Homo sapiens: one gene and its partners. The protein of the gene in region 2 interacts with the protein of the main gene of each other region in a biochemical or structural test. Each region holds a gene or a part of one and is shown on either strand. Other genes may lie near its edges.

Evidence for each region. Proteins that work in one complex are often made in the same cells at the same time.
Region 1: the proteins of SNTG2 (region 2) and CLDN19 interact in a test that uses a peptide from one of them, tested with the Homo sapiens proteins (one large-scale study listed by IntAct).
Region 3: the proteins of SNTG2 (region 2) and ACVR2A interact in a test that uses a peptide from one of them, tested with the Homo sapiens proteins (one large-scale study listed by IntAct).
Region 4: the proteins of SNTG2 (region 2) and UQCRC2 interact in a test that uses a peptide from one of them, tested with the Homo sapiens proteins (one large-scale study listed by IntAct).

The regions. Positions count from the first base shown.
Region 1 is NC_000001.11:42,732,593-42,734,914, reverse strand, and holds the end of CLDN19 (claudin-19), read left to right. Parts: 3' UTR 1-1,822; downstream 1,823-2,322. UniProt on the Homo sapiens protein: Forms paracellular channels: coassembles with CLDN16 into tight junction strands with cation-selective channels through the strands, conveying epithelial permeability in a process known as paracellular tight junction permeability.
Region 2 is NC_000002.12:1,237,349-1,240,848, forward strand, and holds part of SNTG2 (gamma-2-syntrophin), read left to right. Parts: intron 1-539; coding exon 540-669; intron 670-2,389; coding exon 2,390-2,428; intron 2,429-3,500. UniProt on the Homo sapiens protein: Adapter protein that binds to and probably organizes the subcellular localization of a variety of proteins. May link various receptors to the actin cytoskeleton and the dystrophin glycoprotein complex.
Region 3 is NC_000002.12:147,851,529-147,855,028, forward strand, and holds part of ACVR2A (activin receptor type-2A isoform 1 precursor), read left to right. Parts: intron 1-3,500. UniProt on the Homo sapiens protein: On ligand binding, forms a receptor complex consisting of two type II and two type I transmembrane serine/threonine kinases.
Region 4 is NC_000016.10:21,963,361-21,966,860, forward strand, and holds part of UQCRC2 (cytochrome b-c1 complex subunit 2, mitochondrial precursor), read left to right. Parts: intron 1-2,047; coding exon 2,048-2,145; intron 2,146-3,500. UniProt on the Homo sapiens protein: Component of the ubiquinol-cytochrome c oxidoreductase, a multisubunit transmembrane complex that is part of the mitochondrial electron transport chain which drives oxidative phosphorylation.

The DNA.
Region 1 (2,322 bases), on a different chromosome or scaffold from region 2:
TTGGGCAGAAAGATGAGGAGACAGAGGTCCAGGGTGGGTTACATAGCACATCCAGGGCTAAGCAAGAAATAATTCAGAGGTCCTACCCTCTGTCTAGGGACCCCCCTCCCAAGCCTGGCCTTGGCCTTGGCACAAAGTCCTCCTTGATAGGAGATCCCACTCACTCCTGGAGGCTGCCCCTGAGGCTTGGCCCAGCTCTAGGAGCAGTCCCCAGGGTCAGGGAGCCCCTGGTGTGGAAAGAGGCCCCAAGGTAGTAAACCCTGCCCCTGTTACTGTGCTCCAGAGACCTCCTAAGGGAAGGGACAGTTCCTGGAAGGCCCTCCAGCTGGATGCTGGGGATCAGCGATAGGTGAGGGGACACAGTGTAGGAGCTCCCCATGTAGAAAAGGGAATGTGGGGAGGGCGTTAGGAGCTTGCAGGCATTAGGACTGTCCTGAGCAAGGTCTGCAGCCCCCAGCTCTGCTCACCCCGAATCCTGCCCCTTGTTTCCACACCTACCATTCCTCCTCTCCTGATCCCCAGCATCCAGCTGAGGTCCAAGGTCTTTGTCCTAGAATCAGAGTGGGGAGGGGACAGCCTGGGGCTGCCCAGAGACTGTGGGTGGAGCTGCCTGCTGCACTCAGCAGTGCGGTCAGAGAAGGGCTTTTGGTCTTGAAGTCCAGGTACCATCCCCCCTTAGCATACAGGGGGAAGGGCCTGAGAGGAATGTAAGGAAACCAGCCCAGATCAGTCCCAAGGCCAGAGTCCTTTGTCCTACATCTCCCTGAACCAGAGTGTGCCCTGCCCCTCATGCTCAGACCTCTCCCACCCCAAACCCTCTCCCGGGACTCAGTCTCCCTGGCCACTGCGTATCAGGCTTCTGGGGAAAGCATCCATCACAGAACCTCCCCTTCCCTGCCACGCACCTTCCTTGGCCAGCTCCATTCTGGCCTCCTCCACCACCTGCCTTGTGACCACATCTCCCACCACGTCCCCAGATCTCAAGAACGCAGCTCAGCTTCTCCTTCGAGCTTGACTCTGAGAGGGAAAGTGACGGAAACCAAGTCAGATGAGATGACTGCCATGTACACTGCAGTCAAGGGCAGGGAGGGGAGGAATGACACAAATGGCAGGGAGCTGCTGGGGGACTGACCCCTCGGCGCCTGGCCTGGCCGGTGCTGCACATCCACCGGGGCACAACAGGGACTTGTCCAGCCTCTGGTCAGAGGATGTGGCCACCTGACCCTAAATAGGTTCCCCAGAGTCCTGCCCCTCTAATGAATGAGAACTGCAGGAGTTTCTCCTCTGGGTGCCTGAAGCTATAGTGCAATGGTTCCCAACCCTGCATGCACATTCGAATCACCTGGGGGCACAATGCCTAGGCTCCAACCCCAGACACTCTTATTTCATTGGTCTGGGTGGACCTGGCATCAGAAGTCATGTAGCTCCTCAGGGGACTGTAGTGTGTGGTCAGCACTGAGGGCTCCTCTATGAGGCCTCAAGCCCAGGTGACTCTGTGAGGTCTGCAGAGGGAGAAAAGAACCCACAAGGGAAGAGGTGGAGGTCAGGCACGGTGGCTCACGCTTGTAATCCCAGCACTTTGGGAGGCCGAGGTGGGTAGATACCTGAAGTCAGGAGTTCGAGACTAGCCTGGCCAATATGGTAAAACCCCGTGTCTATTAAAAATACAAAAATTAGCTGGCTGTGGTGGTGGGCACCTGTAATCCCAGCTACTCGGGAGGCTGAGGCAGGAGAATCGCTTGAACTCGGGAGGTGGAGGTTGCAGTCAGCCAAGATCGTGCCACTGCACACCATCCTGGATGACAGAGCAAGACTCCATCACAAAAAAAAAAAAAAAAAAGAAAAGAAAAGAGGTGGGTAGCCGGGCGTGGCGGCTCATGCCTGTAATCCCAACACTTTGGGAGGCTGAGGTGGGTGGGTCACAAGGTCAGGAGTTCGAGACCAGCCTGGCCAACATGGTGAAACCCTGTCTCTATTTTTAAAAAATACAAAAATTAGCCGGCTGTGGTGGTGGGCACCTGTAATCCCAGCTACTCGGGAGGCTGAGGCAGGAGAATTGCTTGAACTCAGGAGGCGAAAGCTGCAGTGAGCCAAGATTGTGCCACTGCACTCCAGCCTGGGCAACAGAGCAAGACTCCATCTCAAAAAAGAAAGAAAGAAAAGAGGTGGGGAGAGGAAGCCCCACTCACTCCTGCCTTTCCCAATACCAGGCTGTTCTGTGACACGCCCACATCTTCCCAATCAATTCCCCTTTTGGCTGAAAAAACGTTGAGTTTGAATCCTGTCCCACACAGCCAGAAGAGCCCTACCTAACAGGATTTG
Region 2 (3,500 bases):
GGAAGAACTACTGAATTTGAGACGGTTGGTTGTTAATACTTTGCCATGATTGAGTTCTCAGCAAGTGGAGTGTCATGGAGCAGTGGAAGGGGACTATGTTCTCCCAAAGCTCCCCTGTCAATCAGAAGCACACAGGTGGTCCTAGAGAAGGGTGGATGCTGAGTGCAGAGGGTGCTGGGCTGCTCCAGCCTCACCCCATCAGGAGCTTTAAGTGCTCCATCCAAAGGGTCTTCGAAAGAATAACCAGTAAGAATCCTGCAGACAATAACTCCAGAATTTCAGGAGCACTGTTCTTTCCTTGACAAAGTGCTTTTCATGTTTCATCGAATTAGAAGTAGCTCCTGTTACCAAGGGAATTCGGGGTTTGGTCTTGGTCTCAGCGAGCCTGCTGACTGTACTGAGGCGCCTGAGGAAGTGGTGCAGTTGCCCCATGTCCTGGGTCCAGGGTAGAGCCCTGCTGAGCATCAGCCTCGAAACTCACGGAGGCAGGCCCGCTCCCGTCGCTGCGGGGCCTCCTGGACAGCTCTCTCCCTCCCCAGGTGGAATGCGTTCGAGGTGCTCGCCCTGGACGGAGTCAGCTCTGGGATCCTCCGGTTTTACACAGCCCAGGATGGCACCGACTGGCTGCGGGCGGTCTCAGCCAACATCAGGGAGCTGACACTTCAGAACGTGAGCACACGGTGTTTCTGAGTCTCTGCTGATGCTCATTCGTGCATGAAAAATAATGGAGACATCATGTTTCTGATGATTTATGATTAACCCGAAACAGAAAATCATGTACTTGTTTCAATGTGTCAAATCTATGTCTAAAAACATTAAAAATGAAGCCATCAGAATGTTTCCAAATCAAAGAGTAAGGCAATGTCTAACAGCTGAGAATTTCCCATCTGGTTTTGTCTTCCTCCTCCCCTCTGTCTGCCTCTGTCTCTCTCCCTCCCTTCCTCTCTCTTTCTCTCCACACACATATACAGAAATAGTTATATGTCATAATTTTATATTTTACCCAAATGCATTGATACAGTGTGACATTTTGAGTTGGGGAAACCTAATTGAGTTAAAAGTATAATTCTCCCAAACATTATGAAGATTTAGAAAAAGGCATAATTGAGCAAAAACATTACTTCTCAAATTTGTACTGCAGTCCCCCAGAAACGAAAAAGTATTCTGTCCCCTTAAGTGATGTTTGATATTAAAAGTCAACAGGATTTTAAAAATTAAAGAAATGAAAAGAGATGGGGTGGGAACGAAGACTTGATGACACGGGCGTTGCCTGGAGTGATGGGTGCCTGGACTCGGACATGGAGCCGTGGCCGCAGCCCTGGCAACTGTGGCAGGACTGGCCGTGCCTGGAGGCGGCCCTGGACCAGCCTTGCTGCCCTTGCTCCCTCTAAGCTGAGTTGCCCTGTAATTGCACTTCGATCCCTGCTCTGTTCCTTCGCAGCCTGGAGGCTGCAGAGGCTGGGTCCAGCTTGCAGACTGGCCAGGCGTGGCCCACCCTGCGGCCCTGCAGATGCACCCGCCCTGCCCCTGCCCTGCCCACCACCTCACGTCTCCCTTGCAACCTCCCTTCTTCCTGTGGCTGCAAAACAGAAGTTAACCTAACACTGGGGGAAGCAGCAATGTGTGACATTTCTCCTGTGAAGACCTCAGGGGCTTCCTTTCTGCAAGCAGAGAAGGAAGTACCAGGACCTTCCTAACATTGTAGTTTTCAAACGCAACACTTTAAATTCCAAAGTTATCTCAATAAATAGGGAAGAAAGGATGGTGCTTGACTTATATTTGCAGAAATGTTTGTGACGAGGAGCGCCCTTCAGTTCTGTCATTTCACAAATCAGCCCTCATAGGCAGGGCAGAGAAGTCAGACACCCCAATATTTCAGAACAGAAATGTGGACTCTGAGCTGCCTCCCGGCTGTGTGGCTGTGGGCTGTGGGAACATTATGATTCTGCACCTCCACTTCCTCGGTGAAATTTTGGAAAACAACATCTACCTCCATAGGTCATTGGGAGAACTAAATAAAAGAAAGAATATCAACTGTGATCACCGTAATTACCATCACAGTAATACTGACTCTCACAAGGTTATGTAGAGCAGAAATCATTTCCTCACTTTTCTCAGATATTGGAATTTAAGCACCTGCTCTTGAAGTGTAACTTCACTTACATAAATGCTGATATTTGAAAAAGAGGAATTGAAGCCTGCTAGTAAAGTTGTTTTCTACTGCTGCCATGTTTGTATTGACTCTGGCTAGGTCTTCAGATAGGAAATATGTCATTAAAGAGGCCTGTTTCCCAGGACAGAGCGTGGCTGATGACTTCCAGCTGTCACTCAGGTGAGCCATCCTGGTGTTGGTGGCTGTGGCCCTGACTCTTCTGCCTTCTCTCCACAGATGAAGATGGCGAACAAATGCTGCTCTCCTTCCGACCAGGTAGGGTTTGTATTTTCTGCTTCATGATGTAACACATCAGGTAGGGTTTGTATTTTCTGATTCATGATGTAACACATCTCGAAAAGCAGTCTCTGGTTTTTTGAAATTTGATTTGAAAATGTTGATAGGAAAACATTAGCACATTTCAGACTGCATTTGGTGGTCTCTGCCCTGCCTGTTAATTCTATAAAACTGCTCTTTCTGTGGGAATAGCATAGGTCATTCTGATCTCCTGTGTATAGATTATTTCTCTATTGGCAGTTATGTTTTGTAAAGAATCGTGATTTAAATGATGATTTAGATATGATTGTTTAAACTGAGAAGGGCTTTGAGATGACACACCTGTGTAATTTGAAATTTTAAGCATTATATTATTTTCTTAAATAAAATCCTTACTAGGAAAGCTTCATTCTCAGGAGGGCTTTGGCCCAGTGGGTGTTATTGCCAGTGGGTAGGATCCTGTCATCCCCAAATCCAGGCAGTTTGTTCACCTGGAGCCCAGAGCCCTTAACGTTGTCCTGGATTCAGGATAGCTACCTTTGTAGCCACCCTCAGGCCTGATTTTCTGCTCACTTCCCACGTCTATGAGTACTTAGGAAAACTCTATGGTAATCAAGCTGTTTCAATATCAGCCAAATCAGTTTTTAAGCCACTGTGTTATTCTTCTGTTTCCTTTATAATAAACTTATGATTTAACTTGTAATGTAAGGGAGTATGTTATTTATAGTTCATTCATTTTCTGGTTACATCTCTTAGGGGCGTAAGGAAGCATGCATCATAGCCTCAAGTTAAGAAAACTGAGAAAAACATGTTCGCTTTGCTTTAAATAGCGCACAAAAGACTTTAAATAGTGCTTAGCAAGAATATTTGAATTCACGATGGAGGACTTGAGAAGAGCAGGTCCTCTGCCTATGAAATATTTACTAAAACAATGGGAAAATAGGGCTGTGTTTTAAATTAAACCTCTCTAGTCAACATTTCTACATTAGAAAAGAAACACTAAGAATAAATGGTTCTTCTAACTTTTATCTCTTTTAATATTATTCTAAAATTACCATCAACTATTTTTGTT
Region 3 (3,500 bases), about 150 Mb from region 2:
ATCCTTTATTGTATATCAGTATGGTGCCTTTGTACATATTACTCTTCCTCTTCTACCTGGCTAACCCCTTTTTGGTTTTAAGACTGAGAAGTATCACCTCTTTAGAAACATTTTCTCTGTCACTCAACCCAGATTGAGTTAGTTGCTTTCTGTTCATCTAACACCTTGTAAATGACCTTGATTTCAGTAATAATTGCAAATGTTTACTTGCCTGTTTCCACTTTAGACTGTGCAAATGTTTACTTTCCTGTTTCTACTCTTTGAAGACATCTTTCCTTTATCCACACACCCATTCCTGGAACCTGGTACACAATAGGTGCTCAGCAAATGTTTATTAAATGAATGAAATGAAATTATTTCACTTCTCTGAGCCACGGTTGTCCTCTTAATGTATTGAAGTGGTGAACTTGGATTAGATGATCCCTGATTTTTTTTCCTACTCTGAAAGCTTTATGGTTCTATAATTTTAAGGTTAGAGTTCAGTGGTGACATTTTATTAAGAAAAGATGATTTTGCTCATTGTTTTGATATCTTTAAGTTATGTTCAAATTTAAATTTTTTTAAATAATTAAAATTAGAATTTGAATTATATAGATTTAGAGGGGATCTTAGGTATCCTCATGTTCCATGGCTTTCATACTTTTTTGACTGTAATACACAATAGGAATTACACATTGCATTATGACTTAGTTCCCATGTAGTAGTAGGGGTGTATGTATATATGTCTGTGTGCATCAGAAATGAAAGTTTCATGAACTGTGTACTCTTAACTATGTGCAGGACACTTATGTATTTTTATATTACATTTCATTTAAAAAACATTGATCGTGACCCATTAATTGATTCATTGACCAACTAATGGATTGTAAATCCCTAAAACCAGTGACCTAGTTCAACAATCCTTATTTCCTGTATTCAGTACTCTCTTAGTGGAAAAGGAAGCTTCATATGTAAATGTGTGCAATGAAAAATATATGCACTGAAAAATATGGTCATTAATTAATCTACAATAGAGACTGTGTGCCTAGGTATAGAATATAGGGAAAACTGGTCTCAAGGGAGAACATGGCTCTTCCCTGATTAAGGTCTTCTCTCTTTTGGACTAGTCGAATAAATTAAGCACACACGAAGGCGCTGAAACAACATTAGATTGTAATTTTGGGGAGTTGGGATTTTTTAATTTAGGAAAGACTTGCTGGACTTAGTACTGGAAAAAAAGTCTTAGACGGAGATTAGGAAGGATGTTAATATGAAGGAAAAGACACAAAATAGCATCAGGAACACAATAGCCATTTGAGAGTAAACTTGACCATGGATGAAGGCAAGGTGGGATGGAGAAATTTTGACTAAATCTGAGGAAGAGATTTGTGTGATGAAGAGAGTTCACAATTGCTTGAAGAAGTAGGACAATCTCAGGGGGTTAACCCTTAAATTCAAATGAAAAGTAATTAAAACTGAGGAGGTAAGAGTGGATGATACATATCCTGATGTATGTCCCAAATACCCCATATGTGGATATAGGACTGAAAAGCAACTCGAAGACTAAGGTAGAATGGTAGCACTACTAAATAAAATTGGTAAGGAAGTAATGAGCCAGAGGAAAATTGAAAGTGCCTTCATAACTAAAAAAGTTTACAGATAGATATAGTTTTAGATGATAAGCATGAATAGAAATAAAGACATGTATTTGGAAAAATAAGAGTACATAATAAAACATGATAACGTAATATTCTCTTAAAGAGGCAGACACTGTATGATGGATATGTCTTCATTGTGAAGTCTAGTTAAAGAATTCTAAACATTAGTGGCTCAATATGTTGTTTATGTTTAAATGATGGTCAAATTTCAGTAATTACTCATACTGGTCATCCAGATTATATTCTTTGAAATCTGTATGAGACCCTACAGTAAAATACACTGTTCTAAGGAAGTAGATTTAGATGCTTTTCTGAATTTGGTATATGGTATTCACGCTTGAAACCTAAACTTTTCAGTGACCATTCTTTTGGACTAGTTTTTTCTTTGGTTGGCTGTAGTCACACTGGGAATTACTTTATTCTCTAATATTGCTAAAGAAAATAAATGTAAAGCAAGAAGAGAGTTACTACATTAGAAGGACTGGCTACACATGTGGGGAGGGGTTGCCTTTCAAAAGATTTTAAAAATGAATCAAGTCTTTACATATTGTAATAAAAGTAAGCCTATTTATAAAGCTTAGAGGGAGGAGTTTTCGTAGTTATGATTATTAACTTTAAAATTTTTATTTTAAAGGAAAAGTTTATTGTTCTTCCCATCTTCATAACTATATGTGATATATCAAGCTTGCTCCAAGGCATTATTTCAAGAGGAAGGGGCATGGACAAGTTATGAGATCTTGGCACATTTCTAAAACTCTGAGATTAACTTTTAAAATTTGTAAACCAAGATGTATTAAATGAATTGATAACTCCACATAACATGGTAGCTGGTCCAGAGTAGATCTTACATATTAGTTTTTAATCTATCTTTAAGTCCCATTTAAAAGGATATGGTATGTAAAACATTAAAAAATATAGATTTGGTTCTTGGGGGATATTTACATTTGCAGGTTACTTATCAGTCAGTTAATGTGAAATAATACTCTGACTAAATGATACAGCCAAAGAACATATCATTATAGAGAGCCAGATAGCTGCCAATAAATATCTAGAATATTCAGATATCGTGGTTCCTTACAAAGAGTTCTTTAAGGTCTCACTGTTTTAGCATGCATTAAAAAGAAACAATGGACTAAATCGTCTCTATTTATTAGTGGGAATTTAAAATATCTTTTTTTCTTGGACAACTTCTCTTAAACTTTTTAAGTGTTTTAAAACTTTTTAGTAGAAGTAAAGTTTTGAAAGATTCTCAAGTCTGTTTTTTAGGTACCAGCTACTTTAAGCTTTGAAAACACAAAGCTATTCAATGACTGTACTTTGAGATCAATATTTTGAATGTGGTATAATATTTTGGACTAAAACTTAAGAGTCTGTCATTCAAATTCCTACTTTCCTACTGACTCTTCTTTGACCTTTGACAGCCATTAAGATTTCACTTTACTCACCCTAAATTAAAGAGGGTGAAATAGGTATTCATTCACTTAACAAATCAATATTGAACTACATGCTAGACACTATGGTAAGTGCTTGGGATACATTATTAAACATGAAGACAGATATGATTATGCCTTTCTGAAGCTTATAGTCATAAAGTAAGTAGTCAAATGAACAACATAATTACAGATTGTCATACGTGCTCGGACAGAAACTAACAGGGTGCCGAGAGGATTACTCTTTATTTGCCTTATCACATATCACATCTGTTTACTTTATCTGCCTATTTCTTTTTTTTTTGAGACTGAGTCTCGCTCTGTTGGCCAGGCTGGAGTGCAGTGGTGCAATCTTGGCTTACCACAACCCCAGCCTTCCAGTTCAAGTGATTCTCCTGCCTCAGCCTCCTGAGTAACTGGGACTACAGGCATG
Region 4 (3,500 bases), on a different chromosome or scaffold from region 2:
CTTTTGTTTCTAAACATTTATAATCATTTTTCATGTTTGATGGTAAGTAAATTGTTTGTAAGATCCTAGAAGTTTTTCCTGTTTCCTTCCCAATGTTTTGTTTTTGTTTGTTTGTTTGTTTGTTTTTGAGACAGGGTGTTGCTTGTTGCCCAGGCTGGAGTGCAGTGGCACAATCTCACTGCAGCCTGAACCTTCTGGACTCAGGTGATCCTCCTACCTCAGCCTCCTGAGTAGCTGGGACTACAGGCACACACCACCGCACCCTGCTAATTTTTATTTTTATTTTTTTATAGAGATGAGGTCTCACTCTATTGCCCAGGCTGGTCTCGAACTCCTGGGCTGAAGTGATCCTCCCACCTCAGCTTCCCAAAGTGCTGGGATTACAGGCGTGAGCCACTGTGCCTGACCCCTAGTGATTTTTAAGAGTTGTTTTGCTTACCCCAAATCCTACACCAGTTTATTGCTGCTGCTATTATTGCTTACTATTGTATTGCTATTATTGTTTAGCCATCTCCTCTTTATTGAGTCTTTCCAAAGTAAGTAACTTAATTTTTTTAATAGGAATCTTTTTTGCATTCATATTTTATGTTTATATAATGTCTAATTATATAATCTTGACAAGTACAACTGGTAATACAAGTCTGTAAGCAAGCGCCGCTGACTCTTGGGAGTCATACAACTTCTGGTGGGAGCAGAAATGTGCAGGAAGAGCAGAAATAGCTCAACTCAGTGGTTCAGCATGGGACAGGCTCCCCTCCACATGCAGGCCTGGGGACTGATGTTATTTCATGATGATGCTTGGTGTCACAGAGGAGCATTATCTTTGTTGCTCAGGATTTCTACTGAAGAAATAGATAGAATAGTACAATTTTAGAAAAGATGACCTATGTGTCCAGAGTGGCTTCTTCCCCACTGGCGGCAGTGAGGCACCAGCCTGCATCTATTCTGCCTGAACAGTTACTGTGTAGTCTCCTGGCTGGTGTCAGCCTCCAGGTTTACGTCTTGAGTCCATCTCCCACACGGCCATTACAGTGATCCTTCTGACGTGAAAGTAAGCCTTCTTATTATCTATGGGATAAAGTCCAAACAGCATATACGTATATGGCCTTGCGTGATCTTACCCCAGCCCACTTCTCTTACTTTATGCTCTACCCTCTTCTCCTTCCAGCTGCAATTCCCATTTGAATCAAATTATTGTTATACTTTATGCCTTTGTTTTGTCTGCTTCCTGTGCCTAAAATGCTGTTCCCAAATGATTTCCCCTGGGAAACACCAGCTCATTCTGTAAGATGGATCCCACATATTACTTGTATTAATTGTTTTCCAATTCCCACTGCCCTTGCCTTGTACCTCTACTGCACTTTTGACACACTGCCGACATTGCACCCATAATACTTTATTTCACAGTTTTTCCTCTTAAAATTTGAGGGCAGGCATTGTATGTTCCACATCTCTGTATTTCTAGCACCTAGCACAGTGCCTCGCATAGGCAAGTTGCCAGGTAATGAGCAACTGAAGGAAATACTGCAGGCAAAAAGGCATTGAAGCAAGAAAGCAGGGAAAGCACCAAGCACCACAGAGGAGTAAGTCCCAGTGGAAGCTCCCATTGGTCCCCTGAAAGCTACCTGACAATCTCCTTATTACCTAGAGAGGAAACCTAGGAGTAAGTAAAATTCAGATTAAATGACTTGTCCAAGGTCACATGGCAAGATGGCGGCAGAACCATAACTAGATGGGGACTTCCCAAAACCCAGGCCAGTATACCTTCCAAGTGATACCAGCTAGGTTAAAGTTAGAAAAGTGGTTTAGGTGGACTCCAGTATATAGAAGCTGCTGCCATGTAATCTTTTTTATTTTTTTCTCAGCACATTCTACTGGCAGAAACTGGCAGTTACTAGAGGTTAAATAATAATAAATTTTAAGTCCTCTTAACATATGAATGCCAGAAGATGACCAAATTTGTATAGGCTTGTTGCTTTCTAGGTTTTAAAAATGTTGTCTTTACTGAAAGTGCATTTCCCTAAATGCTTCTTCACTTATCTCACAGATGTCATTGAAAATTTGCATGCAGCAGCTTACCGGAATGCCTTGGCTAATCCCTTGTATTGTCCTGACTATAGGATTGGAAAAGTGACATCAGAGGAGGTACCAATAAAACATATTTTGAAATGTGCTTGTTTTTCACATTAAATTGAACATCTCCCATTTCAGGTTTGTTTGTTAATTTTTCCTTTTATCTTCTAACTTTAAGAAATTCAGCGTGCTAGCTTTTTCATCCACCTGCTTTTTAACTAAAATTTTATCTGAACAATTTTTGTGTCTCCTTTAAGAAATGTTTTCATGACTAAAGGGACATGATCATTACAGAAAAATTAAAAAGTAAAATCAAACAAAATGAAGGGAAAGAAAACATCTCACATACCTAAAGGCACTCAGTGTTAATACCTGGTATATTTTCTTCTAAACCGTTTTCTGTGTGTATGTATCTTTTTTGTTTGTTTGTTTTAAATACGGGGTCTTGCTGTGTTGCCTAGGCTGGTCTTGAACTCTTAAGCTCAAGCAGTCCTTCTGCCTATGCCTCTCAAAGTGCTGGGATTACAGGCATGAGCCATTGCACCCAGCCTGTGTATCTTTTTTAAACAGTATTTAAATGTTTAAGTATCATAATAGGGGCTGGGCCCAGTGGCTCATGCGTGTAATCTCAGCACTTTGGGAGGCCAAGACAGAGGGATCACTTGAGGCCAGGAGTTCAAGACCAGCCTGGGCAACATAGCAAGACCCTGTCTCTACAAAAAAAAAATATATATATATGTGTGTGTGTATACATATATATAAAATAGGTCCTTTGACTAAAACTCTTTGGTCTCTCTGAATTTGTAAATAAGACTTGAGCCCACTTCCTTAGCTCCTGTTCCATCCTCGCTCACTCATTCACGTTCTTCAGCACACCAGCCTCCGTTTGCTGGCTATAGGGGTTTGTCACATGCCACAGCCATATGTGCATCTTAGAACTTTGTTTCCAAAACATGAAACATTGAATGCTAAATCTACAAGTGTAGATATGTGCGTATAATCTTAATTTCCTATTCCTACCACCCAGACCCAAAAACAAATTTTATCAAAAGACATTAAGAGAAAAATTTGTAATTATCAACACCTTCAAAGTATATCTGACTCAAAAATTCAAGGTTTTTATTCTCGTTTTATTCTTAGTTAGCTGTTACAGAAAACTAAACTGTATCCCTTGCTCTTTTTGACTTATCAATTAACAGTTTGATGCCTTTCATTCATATGGCACTTTTATTTAGAAATTTTAACTTACATCATCCAACTTGAACAGGCAGCCGTTTTCATAAGACTGGACTCTAATGAGTTTTGAAATTTTTCAGAAATCAAATTCACCCTCATGAAGATGTGTCATTAAGTTAGCTAAAACTTAGCAAAAGTTTATCTACAAGGATGGCTATTGTAATACTAGTTTATAATTGTGAAAAATTAGA